Regions from separate parts of the Homo sapiens genome. Here regions 1, 2, 3 and 5 are each linked to region 4. Evidence: fine-mapped expression QTL. A gene starts in region 4. Each other region holds a variant in brackets. All regions are shown on one strand. Distances are from middle to middle.

Region 1 (5,104 bases), 26 kb after region 4:
ATGATGGCCGAAATAGCCAGGCAAGCCCAAGAGTGACGGGGCCTGGGACCTTCTGCCACAACTCCCATTGGACAACTAGCCATATCTCCGAAGGAGCCCTGGGTAACCCTCGACGTGGCAGGTAAGACTGTTAACTTGCTTTTGGACATGGGGGCTGCTTGCTCTGTTTTGACCCATTATAATGGGATTCTGTCACCCCAAAACTGTATGGTCACGGGGATAGATGGACAAGCCCATAAATGCCATTTTACCTATCCCTTAACAACTTTGGTTTTCTCACATGCCTTTCTTATCATACCTGAATGCTTCACCCCCTTGTTGGGAAGGGATTGTTAACTGAATTGCAAACAGTGGTATCTTTTGGAAATCAAAAGACAGACTAGGGGTTGTTCCTTCTCCTTTCCTTTGTTAAGGGAGGAGAGTCAAAGGGGCTTACCTACTTTACCTGTTGAAGTAACCTCCCAAGTAAATCCTATAGTATGGGTCACTAAAGTTACAGGCAAAATGCTAAACCTTCCCCCAGTTTGCATCCAACTTAAGCCTGGTGTCCCACACCCATGGAAGAGACAATACCCCTTAAAGCCAGAGACATAAAGAGGGATCCAACCACTAATTGCTAAGTTTTTGCAGTTTGGGTTGTTAAGGCCCTGTGAATCTCCTTGTCATACACCAATCTTGCCAGTTAAAAAGCCAAATGGAGACTACAGATTTGTTCAAGATCTTTGAGCTGTCAATGAGACTATCATTCCTATACATACTACAGTGCCCAATCCCTACACGCTGTTAGCCCAGGGACCTTTTTTTTTGCATTCCAGTACACCCTGATTCACAATTCATCTTTACTTTTGAAAAGACTGATACTGATAGCCATTTAGTTTCTTAATTAACTTGGACAGTTCTTCCCCAGGGGTCTAGGGACAACCCTAATCTGTTTAAAAATGCACTACCTAGAGAATTTAAAATGGTACAATTAAGTAAAAACACTATTACCCAATAGGTGAGTGACTTGTTGGTTACTAGCTCAACTAAAAGAAACTTGGACAAAAATACCATTCAGTTACTAAACTTTCTGGGAACTAGTAAGTACAGGGTCTCACCACACAAAGCCCAGATTTCAACTCAAGAGATTAAATACTCAGAATAAGTTCCAACCCCTGACAATAACACCAGAATGAAGGGAAACTATCTTGGACATTCCAAAACCCCAAACTAGAAAACACCTGTGGACTTTCCTAGGGATGGCAGGATTCTGCTCTTTATGGGTAGTTGGATTTGGGCATATAGGCAAGCCTTTTGATGAGACTCTGAAAGGAGCAGATGTAGGTCCTTTTGAATGGGATAGTAATTGTGAACAGGTTTTTAAAACTCTCAAGGAGAAATTGGGATCAACCCCAGCCCTAGGGATCCCTAATTTTGATAAGCCGCTTTTCCTTTATATGACTGAAAAACAAAGCACTGCCCTAGGTGTCTTTGTCCAGAAATTGGGAGCTATTCCCTGACCAGTGACATATTTTTCTAAACGACTAGACCATGTCACTTCAAGATGGCCTGGATACCTCAGGGCAGTTGCAGCAACTGCCTTAGTAGATGAAACAATAAACTGGCTTTAAGACAACATCTGGAGGTTTTAACCCCACACCAAGTACAAGGAGTCCTAGAAACTAAAAGACACCAGTGGATGACAGGGGGACTCATTAAAATATCAGGCTTTATTGCTAGACACTCCTGATGTAACTCTTAAAGTATGGCATACTTTAAATCTAGCTACTCACTTGCCTGAACCTACAGGCACCCTAGATCATTCTCGTATACAAGTTATGGAGCAAATTTACTCCATGGAAAATCTCGGCTCACTGCAACCTCTGCCTCTCAGGTTCAAGCAAGTCTCCTGCTTCAGCCTCCCGAGTAGCTGGGATTACAGGCATGTGCCACCATGCCCAGCTAATTTTGTATTTTTAATAGAGACTGGGTTTCACCATGTTGGTTAGGCTGGTCTTGAACTCCTGACCTCAGGTGATCCACCCACCTCGGCCTCCCAAAATGCTGGGATTACAGGTGCGAGCCACCACACCCGGCCCATCACATTCTTTAAAAAAGCAGAGAAATGAGTGACACATTCTTGAAAACTTTCCATTACGAATGGATGAAACCTAAGATTAGTTATTTAAGGTTTCTCAGATGGGAAACCTAGCTTCCTAGGGTGGCTTATTCTTGGAGACTCCAGACAGTGAATGTTTTACTAGGCTGTGTGTTCACTCCATTTGTTATTTTCTTAATTTGTTCATTTTTAAAGGCAAGTGATGCTATCAAACTTCATTCTATATGTCTATACTACTGATTTCTGTTGACTTACCCCTCACTTCCCCCTATCTTCAATGGCTAGTTACTGTTTTAACCCCATACTGGGTTGTCTCTTTTATTCATTTACTCTTGCACCCTCCTCTATCATCACTGATGAAAATTTAAGCTATATTGGCCCAAGATCAGCCTTTGAAAACATTCTTTGTGTGTTCTCTCATGCCAACATCAGGACCGTATTTTTCTGGTTGTTGAGTGATTTATGTGAGATGAGTTTAAACCTCTTGCTGAAGTTAAGATGTATCATGTAAATGACAACCTTTGATTTATCAAACTTAGTAATTAAAGTTTCCTAATGCAACAGGATGTGCTCTTCCCATAGCCATACTGAAGAGTACTTCATGTTTATTCTTTGGAAGGGTTAAGCAGTGAGACAGCCACGGGTGCTC[G/A]GATCAGACATTTTCGTTTGTGAGGGTTGGAGAATGATTTTCTCCTGTTTCTTATCATTAGCTACCTTGCGAACTCTCCTAAAGCTACTGAAATAATGGCAATGGTTTAGACGCCCTGCATCTCCAGGGCTTGTGGTTTGTGCACATCTCTCGTCTAAATAAATATAAATATTTTCTCTGTTTCTATTTTATCTTCCCCAAATTCCTGGTTCTGGTGTTGCAACTTCATAAAACCCAGAGCCCACATGGCAGTACCAGCTGCTAGCCCAGGTCAAACTTGGGGAGGGCAGCTGCTTTCCAGGTGCACCCTGTGTGATCCTGACTTCCTCCTGACAGTGCCAGGAACGCCCGTGAACTGCTTTCGTGGTTGCATGTGAAAACTTTTGCATTTCTAGAAATCTCTTCTCCAGCAGGCTGGGCTATTGGCTGCTGTGGGATTGCTAGCTGGTCTAGACCCAGCCCCTCCTTCAGGCTTTTCCCACCCGCTGCTCCTCTCCTGGCCTTGGGCCTCATGCCCGAGTCTCCAGCCGCCACCTTGCTGTTGCTTTACTGTTTCTCCGTGATGCTGTTTCTAGCTAGTTATAATTGGCAGGCAACCAGAAGCCTCATCTGCCAAGGGCGGAAGTCATGTCTGGAACAGGTTTCCCTCTTAAGACTGTGGGCTAACCCAGCATCTTGCCACTTTGTGTGGGACTTCCTCATTCTTAGTACATAACTGTGTTTGACCCTCAGGGATGACTAGTGTTTCCTGGCCTCGGTACAGTTGACTTCTCCAGAAACTATCTGGCTCACTCTCAATTTCCTGGAGCCGTATATCCTAATTACAAAAATGGGAAAATCATACCTAGAGTCCCATAGAAAGAGAAATAGAACCCCCATATGTGCCTACAATTCATCCATTCTCAATTCATTATTTTAAAAATGTAGCTGATGGTTTGGTTCTGAGACCAGACGGTACAAAAATTACCATTCACTCATAGTAGGGCCATCAACTACCATAATCTTTTGGAAAAGTAATTTAGCAATATAAGTCAGGACCACTTAAAAAACCCTTAGAGTTGCTCATTCCACTCTTAGGAACTTATCCTAAAGACGTCAACAGATGTGGACCAAAATTTGTGTGCAAGAATATTATGTAGAATTTCTGTATTGAGAAAATTTGGAGACAGCCTAGCTGTCCAAAAATAGGACTAAATAAAACATGGTACAGCAATATAGTGAAATATTATTATATAACCATTAAGTTATGTTCTTCAACAGTATTTTTAAAATAAGGAAAATTCCAACGTTTTTGAGGAGTCTTTTTAAAAACGAGAGTACAGACCAGGCACAGTGGTACACACTTACAATCCCAGCACTCTGGGAGGCCAAGGCAAGTGGATCACTTGAGGCCAGGAGCTGGAGACCAGCCTGGGCAACACAGTGAGACCCTGTCTCTACAAAAAATACAAAAAATTAACCAGGTGTGTTGGTGCACACCTGTGGTCCCAGCTACTTGGGAGGCTGAGGTGGGAGGATTGCTTGAGCCCAGGAGTTTGAGGCTGTAGTGAGCTGTGATGCCACCACTGCACTCCAGCCTGGGTGACAGAGTGAGATCCTGTCTCAAAATAAAATAGAATGTAAAAAGAGCACATGCATGAAAAGTGGAACACAACACTTTAGGTAATAATATTATCCCAATCACATAGGTGTGCTTAGTGCAAACAAAAACATTCATAGTATTTATCTCTGGTGGTAGAATTACTGGCGATTTAAAAAAAAATACATTTTTTTCTGAATATTCCAAGTGTTCTACAATGAATGTGTTACTTTCCTAATCAGAAAAACAACTGTTATTTGTTAAAAGAAATTAGACCACAAAAAAAGCAAAAACACAAAGGCCTTGCCTATTTTTTTTCCCCCTGTTTTACCACATCCTTTCTCACTGATGTAGAAAAAAAAGGAACTAATATTTATGGTGCCAAGAATGTAAATCCGTCCTGTAACTTGGAAGGTACATGTGTATCTTTCCCATTTTAAAGGTAATAAAGTCACCAAAGAAAAGGGTGGCAAAAATAAAATGTGAATGCAGGCCCATTGGCCCCAAAGGCATCTTCTTCTCACGTCTACACTGTCCCACTCGTGATAGTTTTAAGTTGCATGTTATTCTGTACCTGGCCTTTTTAATTTTATCAAAATAAACTTCCCTTTGGTAACAAAGATATTCTACTTTCTGTAAAATTTTCATTCCAGCTAACTTTTGTTAGCTAAGATTTTGTCTAAGGAGTACCAATGCTTTGAATAATCATACTAAAAATATAGCCTAATTGGTCTGAATGAAATTGAACAACTGCAATTGTTCAAACAAGCTGGATGCA
Region 2 (5,104 bases), 77 kb before region 4:
CAAGGTGGAGGTTGCAGTGAGCTGGGATTGTGCCACTGCACTCCAGCCTGGGGAACAGAGCAAGACTCCATCTCAAAAAAAAAAGAAAGAAAGAAAGAAAGAAATTAAGACTTTCCCAGATAAACAAAAGCTGAGTGAGTTCATCACCACTAGACCTGCCCTACTGCTGAAGGAACATTTTCAAGTTGAAGTGAAAGGTCAATAAGCAGTAATAAAGCACCATATAAAAATATAAAACTCCCTGGTAAAGGTAAATATACAGATAAATATAGACGTAGTAAGGTAATGCAGGTGCATGAATCACTTTAAAATCTGGTACCCCTTTCAAATCTTTTGATCACATTAAAATCACTTCTTAAAGACTAAAAGCACAAACAATAATTATAAATCTGAGTTAATGTATATGCAATATAAAAAGCGGTCACTGGTGTCATTGGTAAAATAGAGTGCAGGGGAGACAGAGATGTAAAAGAGTAGAGATTTTATTTGTCATTGAAGTAATAAATAGACTGTTATAACTTTAAGATATGTAATTGCAATGGTAACTACAAAATGAGTATCTATTGAATATACACAAAAGGAAATAGAAAGGGAATCAAAATACGTCACTATTTTAAAAAATCAACGAAACACAAAAGAAAGCAGCAAGAGAGGAAAAGATAGACAAAAAGTTCCAAGACATACAAAAAAATAAAGTAAATGGCAATAGTAAGTCTTTCTGTATTAGTAATCACTAAAAATGTAAATGGGTCAAACATCCCAATTAAAAGACACAGTTAGGCCAAATGGAAATTTTTAATGAGATCTATTAATATACTATCTACAAGAAACTTACTTTACATCAAAAGACACACATAGGTTAAAAGTGAAAGAATGAAAAAAGATAATTCATGAAATCCAGAACTGAAAGAAAACAAGGATGGCCATACTTAGACAAAATAAGACTTTAAGACAAAAACTGTCACAAGAGACAAAGAAGGACATTGTACAATAATAAAAGGGTCAGTCAAATCTCTGAAAAGACATAACAATTCTAAATAAAGATGCACCTAATAATAGAGGTCTCAGATATATGAAGTCAACACTGACAGAATTGAAAGAAGAAACAAACACCACCACAATAATACTAGGGGGTTTCAATATTCTACTTCAGTTATGGATAGATCAGACAGAAGATCAATAAGGAAACATCGGACTTAAACAACACTATAATCAAACGGACCCGACAGACATAAAGAACACTGATCCCAACAACAGCAGAATACACATTCTTCTCAAGAGCATATGGAACATTCTCCAAGACAGACCACATGTTAGGCCCCATAATATCTCAACAATTTTTTTTTTTTTTTTTTTTTGAGACAGAGTCTCACTGTGTCGCCCAGGCTGGAGTGCAGTGGCGCTATCTCGGCTCACTGCAAGCTCCACCTCCCGGGTTCACGCCATTCTCCTGCCTCAGCCTCCCTAGTAGCTGGGACTACTAGGCGCCCGCCACCACGCCCGGCTAATTTTTTGTATTTTTAGTAGAGACGGAGTTTCACCGTGTTAGCCAGGATGGTCTCGATCTCCTGACCTTGTGATCTGCCCACCTCAGCCTCCCAAAGTGCTGGGATTACAGGCGTGGGCCACCGTGCCCAGCCAACAATTTTTTTTAAGACAGGTTTTCACTCTGTCACCCAGGCTGGAGAGCACAAGGCTCACTGTAGCCTCAATCTCCTGGGCTCAACTGATACTCCCACCTCAGACTCCCGAGTAGGTGGGACTACTGGTATGCACCACCATGCCCAGTGAATTTTTTGTATTTTTATTAGAGACAGGATTTCGTCATGTTGCCCAGACTGGTCTTGAACTCTTGAACTCCTGAACTCAAGTGACCTGCCCACCTCAGCCTCCCAAAGTGTTGGGATTACAGGTGTGAGCCAGTGCCGCCCACCAACAAATTTAAGAAGACTAAAACTATGCAATGTATCTTCTCTGACTACAACAAAATGAAACTAGAAGTCAATAGCAGAAAAGTAAACCCAGAAAATACACAAATGTGTGGAAATTAAACAACTCGCCCCTAAACAACCAATGGGTCAAAGAAGAAATCACAAGGGATTTAGAAAAAAATCCAGAAACAAACGAAAACAAAAAAAAAAATATACCAAAATGTATGATATATAGCAAAAGCCATACAAAGAGGGAAGTTTATACCAGTAAACATTTACATTAAAAAAAAGAAGAAAGATCTCAAAATCAGCAACCTAACTTCAACCTCAAGGAAATTGAAAAAAAGAAACAAACTAAACCCAAAATTAGCAGAAGGGAGAAAAAAAAATAAAGATTAGATCAGATAAATAAATAGAAAAAAATAAATAAATAGAAAAAAAAAAGCAGAAAAAAACCCAAAGAAACCTAGAGTTGGTTTTTGAAAAGATCAATAAAATTAATAAACCCTTAGCTAGATTAGCTAAGAAAAAAAGAAGATTCAAATAACTAAAAGTAGAAATGAAAGAGGGAACATAACAACTGATATCACAGAAATAGAAGAATTACAAGAGACTACTAGGAACAATTATGTGCCAACAAATTGGATAATCTACAA[G/T]AAATGGATAAACCTCTAAAAACAATTTTCCATGGGTGAATCATGGAGAAATAAAAACTTTGAACACACTTATAATAACTAAGGGGATTAAAGCAGTAATCAAAAACCTCTCAGCAAAGAAAAACCCAGGACCAGAGAACTTCACTGGAAAATTCTGCTGAACACTTAAAGAATTAACATCAATCTTCCTCAAACAGCTATCTTCCAAAGAACTGAAACAGAGGGAACACTTTTCAAACACATTCTAGGAGGCCTGCATTTCTCTGACACCAAAGCCAGACAAAGACACAAGAAAACTACAGACCAATATCCCTGATGCAAAAATCCTCAACAGAACACTAGCAAATGGAATTAAAATGCACATTAAAAGAATTATATACACCATAACCAAGTGGGATTTATACCTGCAATACAGGGATCGTTCAACACACAAAAATCAATCAGTGTAACATATACTACATTAACAAAATGGAGGAAAAAAACACATGATCATCTCAATTGGTATGGAAAAGCATTTGACAACATTCAAGACACTTTCTTGATTAAAAAAAATGTGACGAACTAGAAATAGAAAAAAACTTATTCAACAAAATAAAGGTAATATATGAAAAGCCCATCGGTAATATCACACTTGGCAGCAAACAAATGAAAGCTTTCCCTCTAAGATTAGAAGCAGGGCAAGGAGTCCCACTTTCACCACTACTAGTCAACATAGTGCTGGAAATCCTAACTAGAGCAATTAAACAAGTAAAAAAAGTAAAAGGTACCCAAACCGGAAAAGAAGAAGTAAAATTATCATTATTTGCAGATGAAATAATCTTATATGTAGAAAAACCTAAAGAATCCACCAAAAACTACAAGCAATAAATGATTTCAGCAAAGTTTCAGGATACAAAATCAACACACAAAAATAGTTGTATTTTTGTATACTAACAATGACCAATCCAAAAAAAAAATCAAGAAAACAATGCCATTTACTGTAGTATCAAAAAAGATAAAATACTTAGGAATAAACCTAACTGGGGAGGTGGAAAATTTTTCTACAAAACATTTCTAAAAGAAATCAAAGAAGATACAAATAAATGGAAAGACATCTTGTGCTCATGTATTGGAAGACTTAATAATATTAAAATGTCCACACTACCTAAAGCGATCTACAGATTCAATACAATCCCTACCAAAATTCCCAAGGCATTTTTTACAGAAATAGAAAAAAATCCTCCTCAAATTTACATGGAGTCTGAAGTGACCCTAAACAGCCAAAATAGTCTTAAAAAAAAGGGAACACAGTTGGAGGCCTCATACTTCCTAATTTTAAAACATGCTACATGTCAGGTGCAGCAGCTCGTGTCTGTAATCCCATGACATATTGTGTTCTTGGTAAAAATTGGACTGTTGTGCTGCTAAAAATAATTGGACTGTTAGAATTAAATGTCAATTTTATTATCTTCAAAATAGTGGTAACAGTATTGTGGCCTACAAAAAAAAATTAGTTCATTGTAAGACCACTAAAGAAAAATTGTAAGAAAATTCCTCTTTAAAATCTGCCAAATAATGACATCTTAGTTCTTCTTGACAGTGGAGAGAGGGAAGAGGGAAGAGAAGATGGGGGAATGGGAGAAAAAGAGGAAAAAGATAAGTGAGTTGCAGGTCCCCCGCTAAGTGGAGGGCTGGCTTCCCTACTCAGTGGAGAAACATCAGAGCCCACATGCTCAGTTACCATGGAGACCCCTCTGCTCTGAGATAGTTATGATTTGTCAGATCTCAGAGGGTTTGCACTTTCAAAACTTCCTGTTTTAATGAAAACATACCCTTGATAACACTTTTTCTTTACAAGCATGAAAAACAAAGGAAAAACTACACTTACCTGAATGTAATATATGCCCTTTTCTTGAGCATACATCATTAGAAAACAGTAATCTAGGTTTTGCTTTGTTCTCCATCTGAAATAAACATTTTCAAAAAGTAAGTTAGGAATCAGACTCAAATTTAGTAAAATAAGATTAAATGTATAAATGTCAAATGTCTACATAACATGTCATCTATGTATATGTGTACACACACACACATACACACACACTCACTTAGGACGAAGAGTCAAAGAAAATTCACTTTCCTCTAATGAAGACTTTATCAAAATGTATTCCCAAGAACACTAATTCTCAAGCTGTCCTGAGGAAAAAAATGAGTCTAATATCAAGTAAGTATGTATACATGTTCCCCTTCTAGAAACATATTAATTCATAAGAGGCACAAAAATATCCAACGGTAAAGACATTTATTGGGAAAAAAATTCTTAATACATATTTTTCCAAACTTCCTTGACCACAGACCCTTTTTTCAGTAATATCTTAATGTTTCATCAAATGAGTGCTTCAAAAATTACAATTTTAGGGTCCCTATTCTGGTGCCTAGGACTGTTTGCACGCAGATCAAAGTTCACAAATAGGTACTGAATGCTTTAAAAAATTCATATTTAAATTTACAGTATTAAACCCTGTCAGTGAATTCCTGGTA
Region 3 (5,104 bases), 31 kb before region 4:
ATGGGGGATGCAGGGGTTGGTGTGACTATCGACACCACAGGGGAGATCTTTGTGGTGATAGAATTGTTCTATAGTGGTGGTTACAAGAATCTAGACATGATAAAAGGACACAGAACTATCCACACTCATAATACCAATGTCAATTTCCTGATTTTGATATTGTACATTATATACACATAAGTTATCCCAAGAAGTAACTGTCAGGGAAAGATGGGTGAAGTTTGCACTGTATCTCTCTGTCTTTGCAGCTTCCTTTAGTTCTACAATTATTTTTAAATAGGTTTTTGAAAAAGCAAAGCAGAAAAGAACCAACGAACAAATAATTATTATTAAGGGCAAAAAGAAAATAGGGCATGTTCATCCAGTGGGTCATTCAACTGAAAGGACTTCACCACAACGTTTGTCAGAGGAGCCCAGAACACTGCCTTACTAAGAGGATGTGTAACAGTACTCTTTTGTCTACTGTGTATTCATACAACAAGATTAACTGGATGGGTTCATAAGAAGACAAATGCTAAAGGTTGATGTACACACAAAAGTGATTAGAAAGAGAGCGAATGTTAAAAAATTTTTCATTGACTTGATCATTCTAATTGCTGTTTATAAACCTAATAAAATGTTTTACAACTGAAAAGATGGCCATTCTCTTTTCAAAATTGTTAGCTGTCAGTTTTCAAAAACTGATATTTGCATTTGATGATTCAAGTGCAGAAGAACCAGAAGTAGTGATAAGCTGGCTGGGTGTGGTGGCTCATGCCTATAAAAAAATTCCAGCACTTTGGGAGGCTAAGAGAGGCAGATCATTTGAGGCCAAGAGTTTCAAGACCAGCCTGGCCAACACGGTGAAAACCCGTCTCTACTAAAAATACAGAAATTAGCCAGGTGTGGTGATGTGCACCTGTAATCCCAGCTACTTGGGAGGCTGAGGCAGAAAAAAATCACTTGAACCCAGGTGGCAGAGGTTGCAGTGAGCTGAGATTGCATCACTGCACTGCAGCCTGGGCAACAGAGCAAGACTCCGTCTCAAAAAATAAAATTAATTAAAAATAAATAAATATGCTCTGAAATCTCCTCACATTTGCTTACATTAATGCTCATTAATCCTCTCTTCTTTACACAGATCCCAGTATCAACGCTCCTTTTATTCATCTCCTGACCAGGAACACGAAACTGTTACCCATGCCTTTTCATTTTCCCCTTCATTATCCTCTGTACCTTACATTTCTAAATGGAAACCCTTCAATGACTACCTACTTAACTCTCCAACATGATCTCCTCACGTTGCCCAGGATCTTTCTTGCTTCAGTATTACCAAGCTGCTTGGAGTGCTCCAAGCCCACTTACTATGAGTTTCATTGCTCTACGTTCATGCTGTCTGCCTACCAGATCCACCTTCTCTTTCTTTACTGGAAAAAATTCCATGCATCCTTCAAAATACTCTTTCATTGTCTTCCTGTGAAGTTTTCTCTGACCTCTATCCTCTCTTTAGCTCCTTTTTATCTTGTTAACTACACTATTTTATATCAACACAAACTGTACTATAATTACATACTTATCTCTTTTTCCCTCCTCAGCTATGAGTTCCTTAACAGCAGGTTTGTCAGGAGTTCCTAAGACTATCCCCAGGTTCAGTGATTCACTTGAAGGACTCACAGGACTCACCATTGAGTTGCAGCACAGGGAAAAGACACACGGAGAGAAGTTTGGAAGAAACCAGGTATGCAGTGACTCAGGACACACTTCCTTCCCACAGTAGCGAGTGCTGACAACACGTGCAATGTGTTGTGTTGTCTACCACGAAAGCTCATTGGAGACTCAATGTCAAAGGCTATTACTGCGGGCTGGTCACATAGGCACCCGCTGCCTAGTACATACCAAAATTTCAGACTCCAATAAGGAAACCAGGTGTTCAGCATAACCACACAACTTGTACAAATAGTTTAGGCACACTGAGCCACTCTTCTCATATAGGGAAAGGTTATTATCAGGGTTTATCAGCCAAGTTCCCAGAGGCCAGCCGAGGACCAGCCTTTCAAGCCAGGCTTTCTGATAATTAGCAGTCTCAGATTTGCCATGTTAACTCTTTTCTGCACAGCAGGAATCATATTTTAGTCTTTTTTTTTTCCCCCTAAATGCCATTGCCTTACAGAATGCCAAGCAATAAGTAACAAGAGGCAAATCCTCTTAAACTAAAAAAATGTATTTAAAAATTGATCAATAATATGCATAAAATTTGTTATACCATTACTTATAAGATTAAGCTAATTATGGTAATTGTAAAATGGAATATTATGGACCCACTACAATTCATGGTATGGGAAACATTTGTGATATTAAGCAAAAAATGTACATTATACAATATGCACAGTATGAGGCCAATCCCATTTTTTGAGGGAGACACATATGTAGTACTGTGAGACAAATTAGCAAACATAGGAAGCCATGTTTGCCATTTCCGCTTGAACCCCGAGTATGTGACAAAAT[G/A]CTCCCTGGAAGAATGTTTTGAAGACAAAATAGGGTAGAGCACATGGCCCACCACATCTCTTGCCTGAGTCACGATGTTTCTTATAGGATACGTGACCCGTCCTTGCCTTTTTCTGCACGTGAGATAACATCTGACGGGGTTAGTGAGTATGCTTCTGCAAGCTATAACCAGATATCCTCTCATACCCAAACCTCATGATTCCGCTTTTATGGAACTTTCTGAGCAAGTGCGATATGATTTTACCTGGAATGGTCCTGCACTACCTGCATATAAGCAGTGGCTGGAACACTGTGCAGGGGCCATCTCACAAGACCTCTCCAAAGGACCACTCCCAGGCTGCCAGCCTCGGGCTATAGTCCTTAGCAAGACTTCTGAGTAAAATTAACTTTAATTCTTTAAAAGCTTGATTTTTTCCTTTAGTTGACTATATATATAATATATACTATATATAATATATTCATATATACTATAAATACCATATGAGTATTTACTATATATGATATCATATTAGTATATACTCTATATTATATTAGTATATATTGCATTATCTGTCTATCTATCTATCTATAAGGTAGGTCTCAGAACCCCTTTACACTGTCTTCAAAATTAGACAACCCCAAAGACCTTTTGTTTATGTGAATTATATCAATCAACATTTACCATATTGCAAATCAAAACCAATTAACTTTTTAAAGATGTATTTAAAATTCATTTAAAAGTCTATTACATGTTGGCTGGGCGCGGTGGCTCATGCGTGTAATCCCAGCACTTTGGAAGGCCAAGGGAGGTGGATTACCTGAGGTCAGCAGTTTGAGACCAGCCTGGCTAACATGGCAAAACCCCATCTCTACTAAAAGTACAAAAATTAGCCAGCCGTGGTGGCGGGCACCTGTAATCCCAGCTACTCAGGAGGCTGAGGCAGGAGAATCGCTTGAACCCGGGAGGCGGAGGTTGCAGTGAGCCGAGATCGCGCCACTACACTCCAGTCTGGGGAACAAGAGTAAGACTCTGTCTCAAAAAAAAAAAAAAAACAATCTATTACATGTTAGCATAAATAATGCATTTTATTAAAAATAATTGTTTTCTTAAAAAAATTAGTGAAAAGAGTGACATTTGCTCACATCTCTTTAATTCAGCTGAATAGAATACAGCTGAGTTCTCATCTGCTTCTGCTATTTCTTATGAGAGTGGAAAAGGCTATTATAAAAATGGTCTTCACTTCATGAACCTCCTGAAAGGGTCTAGAGATCCCCACAGGTCCTTGGATCACATGCTCAGAACCACTAATCCAGAAAAAATGAAAGAAAATATACCAAAAATGTTTAACACTGCTCTAAAGATTTAGTTCATTGGTATTTTATTTAAGATTTCATCCTATTAGGTAAGGCTGATCTATTAGTCTCTTTTTTATGCTATTCTTGTCCACTACTGGTTTCAGAGTCCAGTGCAACTTTATCCACTGTATCCATTGCACAATGGGTCTAGAACTGGACAATTACTCACATCCCCAAAACCTGATTAGTAATGTTTCTGAAGCAGCACAAAAAAATCAGTTAATGTTCTGTAATAACCCAATGTTCTCAGTGTAGTCCCCTCTCATATGTCGGCCATGAATAATATCCTTTCAGAGTTAAGAATACCTCAAACAGATTCCAGACAACCTCTGAGCACAGCACATGTACTGCTTAAGAAGCTTTCCAACCTGGAAAAATTAGATTAGGAGTCTGTTTCAGGAAATGGATGCTAGCCAACTAAGCTGAACATAAAATAAAATAATACCATGCCAAGTGCAAGGTCTAAATCGGCAAACTTTAACATATCAGCAAGAAAGGCTGCTGACCAATTTGGCAGAGGCTAGGTCTACATTCTAGACCCTAGTTAGGTCCTGTTTTAAAATTAGGTCCTTATTTATAACACCTGAAACATTCAAGACTCTTCTTTTTAGAAAGTCAATATGGCAAAAACTTTCTTATGCCCTGATGTTGTATGTGTATATTTACAGCTCAAAGAGTCCCAGGTGTGCTGGTGCCTAACCCTGGCTGCCAATCAGAATTACCTAGGGGCACGTTCGAGAACTTCCCAGGGGATGTCTAACTTCTAGCATAACAGAGTGAGAAGGCTCACAAATCCTCTTCCCACAAAGCAACTATAAAGCTGGTCAAGAGTCAAAAACAACCTAGTTGGTGCTCTGGAAAGCAAGCAAGACATTCAACAAACTGAGAAGTGTTTATTCATGAAACCCACTGGACTCCAGGTGAGAACAGCACAAGTCTGTGACTTTTCCTGCCAAGAGCTGCCCTCATCTGCCCTGCCCTCAGCTCTGTCAATTCAGAAGTTTAACAGGCGTGGGGCAGGCCTTGAAAACTAGCAAACTCACTGCCACTGCTGGCAGGGACTCATTGGATTTGCAGTGTTGTCAGTGAGAGCAGCAAGCCCAGAGGCAGGCAAGCAGCACGGAGGGCCAGAGGCCTGCTGCCATGAGGCTGCTGTTCTATCTGGGACAAGCAATGGACTGGCACACCAGCTGGAGACTTAATAGGGAGGCCTTGAAAATGAGATGGCTGTAGGGGGCTTATAAAGCTCTTCACACATCCCAGGTGGACTGGAGGCTCTGAGCAT
Region 4 (5,104 bases):
GTTTAGAATTAAAATCTTCACAGTGGCCAGGTGTGGTGGCTCATGCCTGTAATCCTAGCACTTTGGGAGGCTGAGGCAGGCAGATTACCCGAGGTCAGGAGTTCAAGGCCAGCCTGGCCAACATGACGAAACCCTGTCTCTATTAAAAATACAAAAATTAGCCAGGAGTGGTGGCAGGTGCCTGTAATCCCAGCTTACTCGGGAGGCTGAGGCAGGAGAATTACTTGAACCTGGGAGGCAGAGGTTGCAGTGAGCCGAGATCACACCACTGCACTCCAGCCTGGGTGACAGAGACTCAGTTTGAAAAAAAAAAAAAACTTCATAGCAAGACTGCTCTAATTGTCTTAAATCAATAAGCACCCAATAATGAATTCTGATTATAAAAACACGGGTGATAATTCTATGAATTATATAACTTGGAACATTAATCCCGGTGTGGCATTATATTAAAATACTTATAACTTTCAGCTGCTATCTACTTAGCCCTATTTTACTTGAGAAAGAATTTTGTTCTAGTAAAAGATCTAAAAAGCATACAGGTTATTAGAGTAAGCACTCAATTCATAATAACGGGGAGGTAGAGCGCACATCATATAGTTAAGGATATTTTAAAAGTTTTACTAAATACAAATAAAGCTTGTAAAAACATTCCGTAGAAATGCATAGAGACAAGTAAATGAACTCTAAAACCAAAGTAAACTATTGATATACTACCCCTAATATATGAAAAAAAAAAAATACTGGATCCAGTAAGTTATGAAACTCTGAAGATACTTACAATAAATTCTACTAGCAAATAAGCCCTGAAATTTTGCAAGAAAAATATGCGTGTTTTACTCAGTAAGAATGTAGTCATACATTTTTAATTAGGGTTTCCCAGCTAATAAGTTTAACTGCACGGCACAAGTGAAGAAACTCTTCGGACAAGAGTAAAACCAAGGATCTACTCACTCTTCAATTATGAGACATAATTCACAGGCTGGCTTGTAAGACACAGGTGACCCACATTTTTATTAGTGTCCACATTTGCAAAAATTTTAATCTAGCCCCTTAATATTCTCGGAGACTATAATCTAACACGTTTGAATCTTTAACAACAACAAAAAAAGGTAGTGGCTAAAATTGCTAGTCATTTCTCCACCCTCCCAAAGGTGAATGGAACTTTCAACTCTAGACATCAGACTGTTTTGTTAGCAATCCTTTAAGGGCTTCAGTCTTCATTTTATTATTGGATACAAAACCTTTACTTATTTTAAAGTGTTCTCTGAAATACTCAATATAGTCCACGGCTGAGAACACTTTGCCGAACGTTTGGCATCTTCCTTAATCAGCATCCCACAGACAGGGTAGAGGTGACTTAAGAATGAAAGGCACAATAATCCCTGATATCTGGAATCAATAAAATCCATGACGTAAGCCTATATAACTTTACACACCACAATTGTGGCAAAATTCATTTATTTGCCATTTATAAACGGGTCAGTAGTTTTCTTTAATACAGCTTACGTAATGTCATCGCCCAGTGCGTTTTCGGGTTTACACGTGTGGGTTAAAGAAATCTATGTCAAGATAACCTGTTCATCAAACTGTTTTTTAAACATTCAGAAAAAGAAACATAAACCACAAAACGCATATTTTTATTCTAAATTTACAGTCTACGTTCCAACGAACGACTGTCATTATCTTTTATCAAATAATCTGTCCAACAGCAAAAGCACAACAGCAAAATACGTGGAAAGCATTCAAAGCATACATTGTGCCTGCTTCTATTTTCCAATGCGGAATGTAGGCAATGAAACCGCTCCAGAGAAACACACTGTTGCGAGGAATAAAGGCGGGTGTGCAAGTGGCTCGACTGCCAGCTCAGAAAAGCTCGCCTCCGAGATGTCACCTGGCACACTTGGTGGAGTCACCGAGACCCAGCCTCAGGGTCCTACTGCAGCTTCCTCATTACGGAGAGAGCTGAGGCCTGGGGAAACGGGGGCTGCTCTTTCACGCGGGCCCCGCAGCCCTTCACTTTGTGTGAAAATTCCCTGCGAAGGCTGCACGGCCGGTCCCCTCGGGAGCAGCCCCTGCCCCTGCGCCTCGGACCGTCCGGCCCCGCCCACCTGCCCCGCGGCCCCCGCGAAAGCGCCGACTCCCGCGCAGCCCCCGGGTCCCACAGGCAGCTGTCCCTCCCCCTCCGCACCCCCCGGATCAGCACTTTGCTCCACTTTCCCCCAAAGTCGCCGAGCCCCGCCACGCCGGGGAGCGCCAGGAACGCACCAGGCGCCGAGCCGGCCGCAGAGAGGGCGCGCGACCCCGAGGGGTGCGCGGTGCGGGGCAGGGACGCTGGGAGGACGGCCCGGCCCGCGCCCCGCCGCCCGCCCCCGAGGCCCAGCCGCTCCCGGAGCCGGCCCCGCGCCCAGAGGCGCCAACAGCTCCCCCGCACAGAGCTCCGGCCGGGCCGCGGCGCAGTAGGCTCCTTTACCAGCAGGTGGATCTCCCGCAGCCCGGGGCCGCCAGCCCGGCCGCCGGCGCCGCCCCCAACTCCCGCGCCCTCCGCGCAGCCGCCCCGCGCCCCCTCCCGCCCCCGCGCGCCGCCGCTGCCGCCGCGAGCCCCTCACCCGCCGCTGGCGTCGCCGTGCTCCCGCGGCTGCCGGCGGAGCTGCTGTAGCCGCCGCCGCCGCTGCCGCCGCCGCTGCGGGCCGCCCCGCCCGCCCCGCCGGCTCCGCCCCCGCCGCTGGAGCGCCCGCCCCGCCCCGCCCCGCCGGGCCGCCCCGACCCCGCCAGCCATTGGCCGGCCCCGCGGGCCCCGCGCCCCGCGCCCCGCGCCCCACCAGTGGCCCGCGCGACTGTCACTTAGGGGCGCCGCCACGCAGCCTGCGGAGCGTTCGGGAGGCTGGCCCGGCTCATCGGTGTCACGGCGAGGTCCGGAGCGGAGCCGCGGTCTCGGGTCCCAGCTCTGGGCGCCGGCCTGCTCCCCGCCGCCCCGCTGCCACATCTGGCTGAGATCCTCCCGGCGCGTGCAGGGACCGCTCCGGCGGCCAACAAAGGCCCGGGCGAGCCCTCGGCCTGCGCCTCGGCGCGCGACCCGACCACCCGGGGCTGCCCCAGCTCCCAGGCGCCTGCCTGCCTCGACCCGGCCCCTTCCCAGCGGCGCGCCCCGCTCCGGGCCGCCCAAACTGGGCGGCCTCCCCGGGGACAGGTCCCGGGCCCAGCCCCACAGGAGCTCCCGAGGCCCCGCGGACGGTCGCGACAGCCCCAACTTCCCGGTGAGAACCCCGCGAATCGGCCAGAAGGGCTGATTTCAGCAACTGGGAAGGAGAAAAACAACTAGGGTTTCAACGCACATCGTTGGGTGCTAATGCCCCTGATTTTCCACTATGCCCCGTTTTCTTGAACCCCATGTCCTTATCTGTCGCCGTTTCACAAGGTTAGAGGTTAACTTCAAAGGCAAAAAACTGACTCGTTTGTAGAAAGCCTGGGTGGTCTGTCCCTGTTTTTCATAGTATCCATAGGACTTGTGCTAACAGTAACTACCCCTGGGTACGTCCTCTTTTGAATACTTAACTGTATAGCAGGCAACCGTATAGCAGGCATGGGTGTTAGATCGTTTATTGCATATCTCATGTTTTAAATTTATTCCCCATTTTTCATAAGAGGAAACTAGCTGAGAGGTGAAAGGGCTTGCCCAAGGTCACACAGCTGGTAATGGTTCAAAAACAAGGGATGTGTTAACTTTATTGCCGCAATAATCCTTACAGCAATCCTACCGAGTAACCTGTAAGGGAATTGAGGGGCCAAAGATCAAGGAGGCAGCCTTGTTCCTGCCAAACTCCCAAAGTAATAAGTAGATTCTTTTCAGAAAACAGTAATTTCAATAATCGAAAACTCTTAAGAGGCATCAATCAGAACAGGGTCCCCTCCCCACCTCCGATAAATTCCATTATTTTTATCTCAAGATAAGAATAATTAATAATCAGCTAGAACATGCATGGAGTTATCAGCCTTCCCATGTTGAGGTTTCTCCATGACGGCTAATTTAAAACTTCAGGAAGAGACACGTAACATCCCTGCTCCCATAGTCTCTTACTAGTTTAGGGGAACCATACCAAAAGATCTGTCCACTGCCCAGCACTGTGGACACAACTTGGGGGATCACAGCCATGATATCCAATGACAGCTCTTCCCTCTACTTTGAGTGTGTTTTCTCTCTACTTCCGGTTTGGCTGTGTCCCCACCCAAATATCATCTTGAATTGTAAATCCCACAATTCCTGTGTGGTGGGAGGAACCTGGTGGGAGGTAATTGAATCATGGGGGAGGGTCTTTCCCATGCTGTTCTCGTGATAGTGAATAAGTCTCACGAAATCTGATGGTTTTAAAAAAGGGAGTTTTGCTGCACAAACTCTCTTTGCCTGCCACCATCCATGTAAGAAGTGACTTGCTCCTCCTTGCCTTCCACCATGATTGTGAGGCCTCCCCTGCCATGTGGAACTGTAACTCCATTGAACCTCTTTTGTCCGTTGCCCAGTCTTGGGTATGTCTTTATCAGCAGCATGAAAACGGACGAATACATTGGGGACCTGAAAGCCAGGTTTCCTGTATTCTATGACAAAGCCATTGCCAAGTAGCAAGCTGGCAATTTGATTCATGACCAGATGTAAACAGAGGTAAAGACTGAGACCATTCCAAGGTAAAGCTTTTAATACATTGTTGGATATATCCTGCCTAAAATATCTCCTAGGAATAGATGATTCTAGGCTTTGCTATTACAGTGCTCTTAATGACAGACAAGCAAACTACTTCTTGCAGAGGAAGAAAGTCCTGCCATTTGATAACATCATGGAGAATGCCCCCAAGCCATTTTCATGAATTACCCAAAAGACCAAATGGAACAGGAGCTATTATCCCTATTTTATTCACGAAGAAACTGAGGCCCTGAGAAATTAAGACATTTGACAGATACAAACAGTAATTTAGGCAATTAGTAAATGTTTGAATCAGAGTTCAAATCCAGGTCTGTTTGATTCCAGAGCCCCTACATCACCCCTCCAGACTATCTCTCTGCTCACATCTTCAGCAAGTTACAAAATTTTGTTGAGTGGATGAATATTTTTACA
Region 5 (5,104 bases), 57 kb before region 4:
ATGTGATTAAAGTTCTTGAGATGGGGTGATTATTCTGGATTAGCTAGTGGGCCCAATATAATCACAAGCGTCTTTATGAAAGGAAGGAGGGAGGGTCAGAGTGAAAGAAAGAGATGGAACAACAGAATCAAGAGGGTCATGGTCAGAGAGATTTGAAGATACTGTACTTTGACGATGAAGGAAGAGGCCACAAAGTAATGTGGAAAAGGCAAAAAAAAAAAAAAAAAAAAAAAAAAAGGATCCTCCCCTAGAGATTCCAGAAGGAACACACCCCTCTTGACAACCTGGTGTTAGGACTTCTGCCTTCCCAAACTGTAAGATGAGAAATCTGTGTTGTGGTTTAAACACAGTGAGTTTGTGGCAATTTGTTACAACAGCAATAGAACACCAACACACCCATCTTCACCAGTAAATGATAGATTCTACCAGCCTCAGGCCAAACGTAATTTCTCAGAGTTCCTTAAACTCCCTAATTAGGCCAAAAGTCCCTCTTACACATTCTCAAAGCATCCTTTACATCGGTAATTAAAGTTATAATTATACAGTTGTTTGTATAATTGACTATGTGACTAATACGTGTTTTCTTTACTGGGCTGAAGCTCCACAAGACTCGGAACCACATCTAATTTTGTGTACCAAAGTATCTGGCAAGGTGCCTGGCCCATAGCAATTGCTCATGGACTTTCATTGCAGCAAATACTTCAAGAATTATCTGTTATCCTCTACGAAGCAGTTGTGCCGTTTTGGTAGATAACCCAATGAGAGTCTTTGCTCAGCCCTCTTGCTCTACCCTGAATGGGCCCTTTAACCTGAAAACCTGAAGGTTTCTTCAACTCAAAGAAATTTACTTCTATAAGCTGGTAATTCCCTCTTTTCACTCTCTTTGTTCACTCCTTCTGAAATGACTACCAGATGAACATTAAAACTTTTGTCTACTTCCATTCTTTATGCGTTTATGCTGCATTCTGGAAGAAATACACAGCTCGGTCTTTCTGATCACTAATTTGATCTTTAGCTATGTCTAGCTAAAATTCCATATCAGTCCCTCGATGTAGGATTTTTAAATATAATCATTGAAATCATAAGCACAAAAATTTCTAACGGATCCTTTGATAATGGTCAGTTATTGTGTTATGGGCAAGTTCTCCTCCCTCATTTCTAAAAATATGTTGATGCTTTATTTTTAAATCATATTCAGTTTGTTCTGCAAACTCAATTTTCTTTAGTATTAAGTCATTCGTGGTACTAATTTTCCTAAATTATTCAGCAACCCCTTGTTGCTGAAGTCGCCCTTGCACCTGCTTGTAGTCGCTGGGTTTGTTTGCCGCAGCCTGCCTTGGAGAATGTGGTGGAAGGATACAGATGTGGTGCTGGGTGGTGCGCCGACAGTTTTCTGTTCTGGGCATTGAGAATCCCAGCCGCTCCCCTGGGGTCAGCAGCCACCGGCAGCACTGTCCTTCCTCTTCAGCCTTACAATGGCTTAGCTATTCTAAGTGCTGTTCCCTAATTAATCAGCCTGACCACTGGAAAACAGAATTTTTAGCAAGAAGCTGTTTTTCTTTATCTAAGAAACAGAAGTTCTGAATATGAAGCCCTAGATAAGTTCTGGGGTTCCATAAAACCCCAGAAATTACAAATAAAATTATATTTTCTATGGGCATTTTCCAAAGTAGAGATTGACAGCTTTCCTAGAATATCCAAAAGGTCCTGTAACTAAAAATATTAAGAGCTTTTCCTAATGATTTAGGGAGGAAAATGTTTAACGTAAATATGGGTTATTTTTTCTACCAAGCTGTTTTTTCTACCTTTCAAAAATAGTAGCAGCTTTATAAGAATGTTAACTATTGGAAAGCTGGTTGACCAAGATTTTATTATATTTATAATGGATAAAGTCATGTAAACAAATGGGATGGAATACATAGCTTCAAAAGAAAGAGAATGTCACATTTACAAAATAAAAACCTATTAGAGACCTTGGACATTTTAAATGACTTTAAAAACACTTCTAATTTCTTTTCATTTGATACTCTTATGAATGAAGAAATAGTGTAAACAAACAAACCCACAACTACTTAAGACATCTTACCCAAAAAGTGACTATTAAAGGGAGAGATGATATCAGCTTCAAAAATAATTAACAATCAACATTCTAAAAAAAACAAAAAACAAAGTACCACACACACCTTGTTAGTCTCTGTATACCTGGCACCTGCAGAATGCCTGGCTTCAATAAATATTTTTTGAATCATTAGAGAAAGGAAAGATGGAGTTTGTCTCAACATGCTATTTTAAGAGTTTCCACCTCCTTAAGAAGGAAGGTAGTAT[A/G]TTATTTCAACTGATTAATGAAATAGAAAGACAGCAGAACTAAGACAAGATGAATGTAAAAGCTTACATTTATAGATCAATGAGAAGATGTGATCCCCCAAATAAGACAGCAAAATACTTAAGAATCCCATTGAATCAAAAGTAGACCCAGCTTTTCAAAAACACTAACCCAAAAATGAATCTTGATATCTATGAAGTTATCATTTCATCACTTGTTAAAAACTTACAGAAGAACAAAATAATATTCTGCCCTCTGCATTTTAAAATCTACAAAGAAAAGATTAACAAAGTCAAAACAGCGGAATCAAATGTATGAGTGGTAAACGGCTCTTGGGCTGCTTGCTCAAGCCCACTTCCACTCTGTGGAGTGTACTTTGGTTTCAATAAATCTGTCCTTACGTTGCTTCAAACAAACAAACAAAAAGAGTGGTAAATAGTTTCTATAAGGAAAACTGAAGAAGTTCTGTTGCCTCTGACAAGAAGAGAAAAATAAGCTATATATTATCTTTTGAATAAATTAGGAAAAAAGAAGCAAATCAAAGTATTTCTACTACTCCATAAAAAGTTACATAAAAGTTACTATCTACTTACACCTCTGTAGGAAAAGTGGGGCAGACATAAGAAAAACCTTTATGACATGACCAAAAGAGCTGTTAATTTTGAAATAAGATACAAGGCAAGTCATCTCTGTACTTCCCAAGTTTCTTAAACAGAAAAATGACAAAGGTGTCAACATTTGTCTGCCTGGGATGGGGCCTGAACTAGATTTCACATGATCCCTTTCAGCTGTATTACTTTGGTCTATGAAGGAAAATGTCCAATTCCTTTCAACATGGAGTTTAGAATGATCTGATGTGCACAGATAAAGAAAGAACTTTCATTTTTTGACCTCCCAGACTTCTGATGGTCAACATAATAGTCCAAAACACATTTAACAGCAGTAGTACAACTGCAGTAAGAAACAAAATAAACATACCTCCTGTTCTTCCGTTGCCAATCTGTACAGCAGGTTGAAGACTTCCTTCATTTTTCAATAAATGAGGCAAATGATAATAAATACTTGGCACTTGAAGAGATTTTTTGCTTGTTAACTCCTTTAACAGCTTTAGGGTATTATCTGAAACACAGAAGTATAATTAATATACAAGAATTACCTTACAGAAGTTGCTGATTTTATAAAACCAGCAGTAAAAATTAATAAGAACTAGAACTAAAGAATTTTCTTTCCTAGTTTCACACTCTGGTGAATGAGATCTCCATTTAAGATGAAAAGGACACTTTCAAAGCCAAAGTCTCACAGGTCATGATGTTGATAAAACTGGCTGAAGGAAACCAAAATGGCCAGCTAGAGGACCGTAAGAAGGTGGGATGCTAAGGGCTCACCTCTATAATGTATTAGAACTCAAGTTTGCCAAACAGACTCTAAATATACTGTTGGCTTATGAAAATGTAATAAATAATAAGTACATTAACCATCAATCACTTCCATTTTCTTTTTTTTTTTTTGTGACAGGGTCTTGCTCTGTAGCCCAGGCTGGTGTCCACTGGCACAATCACGGTTCACTGTCGCCTTGACCTCCCAGGCTCAAGAGATCCTCCCCACCTCAGCCTCCTGAGTACCTGGGACTGCAGGCACATGCTACCACATCAGCTAATTTAAAAAAAAAATTTTTTTTGTACAGACGGGAGTCTCACTATGTTGCCCAGGCTGGTCTCAAACTCCTGGCTCAAGCAATCCTCCTGTCTTGGCCTTCCAAAGTGCTGGGATTACAGGCATGAGCTATCATGCTCAACCATTCACTTTCTTTATGCATTACATGTTATCAAAATTTCACATGGAAGGAATTTTTTTTCTGAAAACTTCAAGTAAAATAATATAAACAGCACAAGTTGAGAATATCCAGTACAGATCACAACTTTCAAATAGTTTCATTTTTTTTCTCACTCCATTTTATACATAGGATGTTTCTGTTTTTATTAGAGGAACCAATGAATCATTTAATGATATGAAATAAAAACTTGGTAGTAGAAATAATATTGTTTTAAAATTTCATTAAATTTGAATTTAACCTTAGAAAAAAGCAAGCTAGCAGTAGGAATTTGTTACCTCAACTTCATTAAAAATATGAGAAGAACCAAAAATTCACGAAAGAAATGCAAATGACTGTCATATGTAAAATTAAAGTTTAATCTCATGCGTAAAGAAACAATTACAAATTATATCAATTTCTACCTATGAAATTAGCAGATTAAATATATTAAATATTGGTGATAACAAGATAAATGTTCCAACTATTCAAAACAGCAGCAAAAACCTTAAAACATTTCTGTCCTATTACTCAGTAATTTCCCTTTTAAGAATTTAGCTTCTATGCATTCAACAAATATTTAGTGATTATCTATTTTATTCCAGCAAATGTATCATTTGTTCAAAAATGAAGTCATCAAAACACAGATCCTATTTCTAAGAAGATCATAATCTAATGAAAATAACTTAAAGGTTACCAGAAATATGATTGCTTTATATACAAATATGTTCATCAGAGTTATAAACTAGGGGGGAAAAACAACCCAGAAAAACCCATTTGAATAACTGTAGAAAAAAATGTTTAATATATTGTGGTATATATAGCTGGCACATTCACAGCCACTAAAAATAATATTTTGAAGATTAATGACAAAGTTTTAAAATGCTCATAGTATAATTTCAAGAGTGAAAATCAGGCCATCATACACAATAACAATTTTGAAGAAAAACATTCACGGAAAAAATACTAGA

What was found. PIP is the estimated chance that this variant, and not a neighbour inherited with it, causes the effect.
Region 1: its variant is fine-mapped to the expression of MGAT4A in whole blood (TOPMed, PIP 0.94).
Region 2: its variant is fine-mapped to the expression of MGAT4A in whole blood (TOPMed, PIP 0.96).
Region 3: its variant is fine-mapped to the expression of MGAT4A in whole blood (TOPMed, PIP above 0.99).
Region 5: its variant is fine-mapped to the expression of MGAT4A in whole blood (TOPMed, PIP above 0.99).

What each region holds. Positions count from the first base shown.
Region 1 is chr2:98,754,901-98,760,004 of GRCh38, forward strand. No RefSeq gene overlaps it. Among named protein-coding and RNA genes, the nearest start is that of LINC02611, 14 kb to the right of the region's middle. The variant G/A (reference allele first, on the strand shown) is at 2,748.
Region 2 is chr2:98,650,991-98,656,094 of GRCh38, forward strand. MGAT4A (alpha-1,3-mannosyl-glycoprotein 4-beta-N-acetylglucosaminyltransferase A) reads right to left here. Exons shown (of 16, transcript NM_012214.3): 8 at 4,455-4,530. Among named protein-coding and RNA genes, the nearest start is that of UNC50, 45 kb to the left of the region's middle. The variant G/T (reference allele first, on the strand shown) is at 2,588.
Region 3 is chr2:98,697,392-98,702,495 of GRCh38, forward strand. The region is part of intron 2 of MGAT4A (alpha-1,3-mannosyl-glycoprotein 4-beta-N-acetylglucosaminyltransferase A); the gene reads right to left. LOC124906050 (a long non-coding RNA gene) reads left to right here. Exons shown (of 3, transcript XR_007087149.1): 1 at 1-1,717; 2 at 4,488-4,739. Among named protein-coding and RNA genes, the nearest start is that of MGAT4A, 31 kb to the right of the region's middle. The variant G/A (reference allele first, on the strand shown) is at 2,485.
Region 4 is chr2:98,728,442-98,733,545 of GRCh38, forward strand. MGAT4A (alpha-1,3-mannosyl-glycoprotein 4-beta-N-acetylglucosaminyltransferase A) reads right to left here and starts at 2,691. Exons shown (of 16, transcript NM_012214.3): 1 at 2,607-2,691. LOC107985922 (a long non-coding RNA gene) reads left to right here and starts at 2,840. Exons shown (of 2, transcript XR_007087150.1): 1 at 2,840-3,254. RefSeq lists silencers at 2,699-3,028, 3,049-3,238, 3,345-3,639.
Region 5 is chr2:98,671,734-98,676,837 of GRCh38, forward strand. MGAT4A (alpha-1,3-mannosyl-glycoprotein 4-beta-N-acetylglucosaminyltransferase A) reads right to left here. Exons shown (of 16, transcript NM_012214.3): 4 at 3,302-3,442. Among named protein-coding and RNA genes, the nearest start is that of MGAT4A, 57 kb to the right of the region's middle. The variant A/G (reference allele first, on the strand shown) is at 2,326.